Homo sapiens: one gene and its partner. The protein of the gene in region 2 purifies or fractionates together with the protein of the main gene of each other region. This does not show direct contact. Each region holds a gene or a part of one and is shown on either strand. Other genes may lie near its edges.

Region 1 (3,832 bases), on a different chromosome or scaffold from region 2:
TAATGCGGTATTGACTAAAGGACAGGGATATAAATCAATGGAACAGAACAGCATGTCCTGAAATAAACCCATACATTTATATTCATCTGATTTCCAACCAAGGTGCCTCAGCAATTCATCAGGGAAAGAAAAGTCCTTTAAACAAATCGTGCTAAAACAATAGAATATCCACATAGAAAACAAAAGGAAAAACTGCCCCTTACTTCACACTATACACAAATACCAGCCTGAAGTGATTTACAGATGTAAGAGCTAAAAGCATAAAACTTATAGAAGACATGGGAGAAAAATCTTTGCAATCCTAGTATAGGCAAAGATTTCTTTGATACAAGATAAGGAGCATAAATCATAAAGAATTAATAAATTGGACTTAATCACATTTTAAAATTTTTGCCCCTCAAAAGACATCCTTAAGAAAATGGAAAGCCAAGTCACAGGATGGGAGAAAATATTCTTAATATACATCTGAGAAAAGACCAAGAATATGTAACAAGGTCTTTCACTCGATAATCTAAAAACATGTATACATATATATAATGTTTTTATATATTTTATATATACAAAACGTGCTAAGACAATAGAATATCCACATAGAAAAAGGGAACAATTGCCCCTTCACACTATACACAATTAGCTTGAAATGATTTACAGATATAAGAGCTAAAAGCATACAACTTTTATAGATATATAAAACTATATATCTATAAAAGCAGGTGAGAAAAATATAGTCTAATGTCATGAAAAGCATAAACAATAATCTATGAATGTCCATGAGCCATTTTCTCGTTTATAGCAATTATTAAAACTGAACTTACCACCTGTGTCCGAGAAGTTGGTTTTCCTTTGGTATCTGTAGAAAATTTCCCTTTATTACTAATACGTGCTGCCTGTTCTTTACAGAAATTTATATGTCTATCAGCTGCATTTTCATTGAATCTCCTCTGACAATATGGACATTGAATATAATCTATAACAGATAAAAACGGAAACAGATTAATAGCATAGTACTTGAAACGGACATTAAAAAATCTTAAGTTTCTATGCAGTCATTCAAAAAATATAAGTAATAACATCTGATAAGCAAAAATTCCCATATCCTTATAACTACCCAGTTTTACTTGTCTAAACTTAGTAAAGAGTTAAAAAAAAAAAAAGTCTGCTGGTACATGACTTCCAATTTTCTTCTAGCTTTGAATCAAATGTGTGAAGGAAAAAAAACAAAAGATAAATCCTTAGTACAAAAGAGTAAGCAGAGGAAAAACGTTATTTCTTTTTTGCCTTTATGTTTTCATTTATAATGGATACATACTTTATATAGCAGACTAGTTAGGAAGTAATAATACATGACGTTAAAATACATTTTAAAATACAGGCTCATCTATTAAAATTTTTTATTTCATCAAATGGAAAACTGTCAAGAAATAGTTTACTTATCTTTAAAGTGCTATTTTCTCTTAAAAGTCCCAACAGATGGAAGAAGTGATTAAAATATATCTCACTGACATAATTCAAATTTAAGAAACAGCAAATGTTTCCAAGATAAAATATCTTCCCAAAATGCAAAGCATACTGTAAATTAAACTTCTTTTGAAATTATTCCAGAACCATATTTTGTAGCATTGTAAAATAACTAAATGAGACACTGGGAATAAATGTAAAAATCTGGTAGTGTCAAAAAAGAATCTTAATTTAACAGGTTTACAACTTATTTTAACAGGTTTACTTTTTTGATACAGAGTTTGCCCTTTTCAATTTATATTCATCTGAGCTCAAAAATTTGTCCTCCTTACTACTGGAGTAGGTCTTAAACCTCTCATAAGAAAGAAATAAGCTGTTTTTGTCAGGCCCAAAAGATTAAAAAAACTTCTAAAGCCCAAACGATCCTGAAGAACTGGTACCCTCTCACTCTCTTATATTAGACATGAGAAATGTAGCTATGTAGAGTTAAGACACAATATCTAAATATCTTCAAAGCAGAGAGAAAACTCAAGTTCATGAAGAAAATAAAAGGTAGTATTAAAAGAGGCCCAGGATCAGTTAAAGCATACCAGAAACATTCATTCATATAAGTTAATTATTAATACTCTAGAACAGGGTTTCGCAAAGTATGGCCCATGGGCCAAATCCAGCCTGCCTGTTGCCTGTCTTTGTAAATGAAGTTTTACGGAAACACAGCCATGCTCATTTTATATTTATATATATATAATTTATATATATTTATATATAAATATAGATATAGTTTATATATAAAAATATAGATATAAATAATTATATATTTATATAAATATATATAATTTATTATATAAATATATATTTATTATATAGATATATATTATATAAATATATATATAATTTATTACATGAATATATATATTTATTACATGAATATATATAATGTATTACGTAAATATATATATAATGTCTTACGTAAATATATATAATGTATTACATAAATATATATAATGTATTACGTAAATATATATATAATGTATTACGTAAATATATATAATGTATTACGTAAATATATATAATGTATTACGTAAATATATATATAATGTATTACGTAAATATATATAATGTATTATGTAAATATATATAATTTATTACGTAAATATATATAATTTATTATGTAAATATAAAATTTATTATATAAATATATAATTTATTATATAAATATATATAATTTATTATATAAACATATATAATTATATATAAATATATATATAATTATGTATATATAGTCTATGGCTTATTTGTTGCAATAGAAACCTTATGGCATATAAAATCTAAGATATTTACTATATCTGTAGATATACTATATCTCTCCTCTACAATAAAATGTCAAAAACGATCATATCTAGATTTGCTAAAGAACTTTCTCTTTGTTAGAAAATAAATCCCAATCTAGAGTACTAACATAGCATTAATGTGGCTACCCTGTTACATTAACAACCTCTTTAGGCTGCTCTAATAAGGAATGTCAAAGTGTCAACTTTGTCACTTTAAGTTTTTCGGTATCTCAGTATCTCATACAAGGTTGCAAAAATCTTGCTTTGCTTTTAGTAACAATGACTCAAGCAACTTTTATCTGCTCAATGAGAAAAAATTTAACAATATACAAATTTAAGCCATAAATGTAGTCGAGCCACATGAATTATACATTTTAGGAAAATTATGATTTTTTTTATATCAATCTCAGATGAGAAGATACCAAGGAACCAGGCAACATAATTATATGACTCCTGCTGAATGACTACATTTCAATCCGCAGTGAGCATGGTTAAAATATTTCCTGGAATACTCACATTTAATAGTTACTATAATAATTTTTAAATGATATTATAATGCCTTGTTTAAATAAAAGTATTAAAATAAAAACATAATACACTTCCATGTTCTAAATTAATGTCTTTATAAGCCTACATGACTAGATTACCACCACCATTTTACACCAAATTTTAAAGATTATGCCTCATAACACTCCATGATTGTAAGTTAAGCTTAACAAGTGAAAATTTATAAAAACTCTATCATTATTTTCTTTCCACATGAACATTTCTGTCAACAATATTCCAAATACCAGGATCATAAGAAGGTGGAGGAGGAGGAGGAAGTTTGCCACCCTCTTTGAGGGCCTGATCAAGGCCTTTAGCTGCTCTTATGGTAGCAATGAATTCTTCATGTTTCCTTCTCCAATTAGATGGTTTCTTTGGTGGTTCTGGCTATAAATAAATAAATAAATAAATAAATAAATAAACAAACAGTATCTTTTTAGTATATTGAAATAAAACATCAGATAATTCCATATCATTTTAAATGTTCTCTTATCAGG
Region 2 (4,297 bases):
GCATCTTTCTGACCATCTGGTACCAGTGCCTCCCTTCTTGACCCTCATTTTTCAACCTCCCACCATCTCAGAATAATAGCTAACTTGGTTCAATTTGCCCATGTTCCATGTACTTAACGGCAGACTGAAGTGCAGCTGAATAAACCCACATGCCAGCATGGACAGGTGTCACTGTATTTATTCTTTAACCACAGCTAGGCCTTCTGCAACACACAACTCAACTTTTATATGATGTTGGTCAGGTTCTTATTCCAGTCTCCTCAGAGGCTAATCCAAACTTTTGCCACTCCAGACCTTGCCTTGAAAGACCCAGAAAAAAATGGAACCACCAGTTATGAACAAATTCACATCATCCTCCTCCAAATCTATAAAAGTATAGCGCTCTAAGGGCATCCTGACTTCATCCTCCCTCCTCCCTCCTCCAAGAGATTGCTGAACTTCCTCCCATCTAAGGATGCCCTCTCTACCTGCAACACAGAGGCCTACCCCTCTAAGATTCTCAGCCATCAGTTATGCCCTTTTCCTCCTCTCCAGCAGCTCCTTCTTTTAGTTCATGAATCCGCTGTGGTCCCTCAGTCCTGGACTCCCTCTAGCTATCACCCCTCAAAGTCAAACTATTTTAAAGAATTTCCAGATTTTCTACTTTCTCATGCCCCATTCATACTTCGGTCCATTTCAATATGGTCTTCACCCTGTCATTCCAACAAATATACTCTTCAATAAGTCATTGCTAACCTGATTGCCAACTTCAACAGTCATTAGCCCTTAGTTCACTTCTCCAACTAGTTGACTATTGGTCATTCTTCCTTTTTAACACCCTTTCTCTCAATGGCTATAAATCTAACTCCCTGTCTCTCCTCCTCCCTCTTGGATCTGTCCTATTTTGTTTCTTCCTTGTCTTCACCTGCTTCTTAAGTGCTGTTTCTCAGGCTTCAGTTATCTTTCTCTTCTCACTATTCCACTATCTTATGGCAATCTCAGTCATATCCCCTGATACAATGATGACTAACAAATCTTTATTCCAATGTAGGCACTCTCTGGAGCCAGATTTCTCACAAAACATGTGCACTTGGATGACCTACAGACACTTTCAGTTTAATGTTCCAGAGCCAAATTCATTACCTATCTTCCTTACTCTTTGCTTCAGGAAACAGCAATACCATTTACCTGGGTCATTAACTGACCATTATCCTAGACTCTTCCTAACCCTTTACATCCAAATAGCAGCTAAGTCCTATAGAGTTTCACTACCTTGACACATCCCGCATTTCCATTCCCTCATCTCCATTGCCATGGATACTGACTCAGCCTAGGACATGGTCACTTCTCATTTCCACCATTGCAAATGTCTCCTAGTTGGTTTCCTGCCCCTAGCTTTGCCCTCTGTACTTTGTCTTTCAAAAGACTGAGCAATCTTTAGAAAATGAAAACATGAACTTCATGATATAGTTTAAGACCCTTTGATGGTCCCCCATTGCATACAGGTAAAATGAAAGTTCTTAGCATTGAATTCATGCATTGGCCTTTCCTATGTCTCCAGCCATTTCTAGTAATTCTCCATCCGTTCAAAATCTATCCTGCATCTCTACTCACTCACATTCCCCAAACACACCATAGCATTCTGTATCTCTGTGCCTTTGTACATGTAGTCACACTTGCAGGTACACCTTCTTTTTCCTGTTGGCCCAGAGAAGTCCCACCCATCCTTCCATGATCATGTGGTGAAGTCCAAATAGCATTCACATTGCAAGACAATGTAATTCGTTTTCGAATTACTTGCCCTGCTAGACAGACTATAAGGTCCTTACGAGGTAGAGCTGTATCCTTTGCATTTACTATCACCATATCATCAGGGCTTAGCAGGAGGCTATTTTATTGCTATTAGAATTTATCATTGTCATTGCTATTGGGTAATTTTTATCAGAATATAAATACAAATGTATGCCTGAAATTCAAATCTCAATATTTAAAACTTTCAATAACAAAATAGATTTTTGTGGTTGTAGGATTTGAGGAAAAAATAAGTCAAAAAAAAAAAACAGGTAAGAATTTCATCTACTTAATATGGTTTAAATACTCCCCAGACTGAAGGCAATAGAGATGGCTGCCTGGGTCATTGGTGTTGTCCTTTAATGAGAACGTAAAGGACCCCCTCAAGTCTCTGATGAATCAAATCAACTATTTGATATAATTTTGAACAAGCCATGTATGTACACTTTAATAAGCATCCTGATTTTTATTCTGATTCTCAGTTGTCAGTGTATAGCAGAAATAGCATAAGTTTAAGTATCAGACAAAGCAAGGTCTGAATGAAAGTTGAAATGTTTTATTGCTTTGTGACTTGGAAATGCTGAACCTCCCTGAAGCTCAGTTTTATCAGTGGTCATCAGGATCGTTAGAGCAATTCACCCAAACCCTTCACACTCAAATACCTAGTACCTAATGACTGCTCAGTAATGTTTACTTCCTTCCCCTTTACTGAATGAAATTTATTTTTGTGCATTTTTATCTAAGCATTTTTTTTGCAAAGATTACAAAAATCTTTCCCAGTACCAAGCTCTTTCCTCTTGCACTGACAGCCTAGTGATGGCTTCTCTAGTCCAAGAACTCTCAAAAGACTTTTAGATTTTCTTTTTAGAGAGTAACATCTACTGTCTTCTTTTCTCAGCTAAGACATACCAAGAAAAAAAAAAACATTAAATCATAGAATAGATAAAAACATTGATTTACCTTAAATGCTAACCTTTTGCCACCAGTTGCTTCGAACTGAAACTATGGACGCTGTCTCCTGCATCTAGGAAAACTGGTCCCTCCCAAGCCACCTTAGCCTCCTCCCTCTTACCTGTCTTCCTCAGGGGCCCTGGTCCACTCTCTTAGTATTAATTGGAGGACCTGGGATCACTGCTGCAGATTCACAGCCTGATTGGCTCAGCTCACTGTCAATCTCTACTCTGGTTCTGCCTTTTCTCAAGTTTACACTCCTGTTGCCTAGGAAATCTCAGTGACTGTGAAAGCTCAAGCCATTTGCACTGGGAGAGAAGCCAGCCAGAAGTTTTGCTGGCAATGGTTTGGTTTCTAGAACAGCATCAAAACTTGTCTCCCATGTTTTGTAAGGTAGTATTCAGCACATTGTCTTCTTTCTTTTAGGCAGCACCTTCCTGTCCTTCTGTAGTCCCCAGAAAGCTTACTGCTAGGGTGCCTCATTGCCAGGTGATACTTAAAACCACAACTCTTGGGAGCAGGCAGGGGTAATTATAGGTGATTCAAGGTTCTCCCTCCTTCTCTGCATTTGCAGAGGATGTCATTTCTGCTGTTTTCATCCTTGGTTTCTTCTCTTCTTTTCTCTTTTTGTTTCTTTTTACTTATGTTTTTCACATGTTCCCTAGCAGTTACTTTGCCAGATAAGAAGAAATCTAGTGGCTTATTTGGAGGAAAATATCTACACTATGCTCTCTTTCATTGTGTATCTATGACATCCACCCTATCCTTGTCATTCCCACTCCTGCACGTCCTGCTTTCAGGAGCAGGCAGGTATAATTAGTGGTGATTCAGACCTTACACCTCTCTCTTTCTCTCTCTCTCTCTGACACACACACACACACACACACACACACACACACACACACACACACACATCTCTGTATATAACATAATCCTGGCTGTGTGCAACATCCTTGCAGTATAAGAACTCACAAAACGGAATAGATGCCAGGCACCCAGCTCTGCAGACTACTAGGCAAGTTCTTTCATGGATTTGACAAGGGCTTGGGTCCTTTGCTATATCTGCAGGGAGTATACATAGTAGCTATTTCATCCTTTTATCTGAATTGTCTGAAGAATTGTCCCAGAATTAAGCAATTAGAACTGTGGTTCTTCCAGGGCAACCTCAGATGTCTAATGTTTTCTTTTCAGTGGTTTAACCCACAAGATATCACGCATTTGAAACTTTTAAGAAGAAACTTAATTTCATCTGTGAATGCAGAAGCAAATATGAGGGCATGGGCATTTAAATATGAAGTATTTCTTGAAAGCCACCTACTGGAGAGTAAGTTTGGTGCAATAATTTAAGAAAAGATAAAAAAGAAACAGGAAAATTGGGACAACGGACAGCATGATGGAGCCACCGTGCAAGCCCTCAATAGTCTGCCTCCAGGTTGTGTCAAATAAAGTAAAAAGAACAAAATCTCTGGAGTACTTAAGCAATGCTTTTGCTTGTTTCCACTGCTAGCAACTGGTGTAATTCCAAGGGTTTTACCAGTTCAAAAAACTGGATCTGGGTTTGTGGTATTGGGTTTCT

The links.
Region 1: the proteins of CAPSL (region 2) and ZC2HC1A purify together in Homo sapiens (co-immunoprecipitation; one large-scale study listed by IntAct). This does not show direct contact.

The regions. Positions count from the first base shown.
Region 1 is NC_000008.11:78,686,357-78,690,188, reverse strand, and holds part of ZC2HC1A (zinc finger C2HC domain-containing protein 1A), read right to left. Parts: intron 3,723-3,832; coding exon 3,581-3,722; intron 968-3,580; coding exon 816-967; intron 1-815.
Region 2 is NC_000005.10:35,935,811-35,940,107, forward strand, and holds the start of CAPSL (calcyphosin-like protein), read right to left. Parts: upstream 2,813-4,297; 5' UTR 2,795-2,812; coding exon of another isoform or gene 2,744-2,794; 5' UTR 2,731-2,743; intron 1-2,730.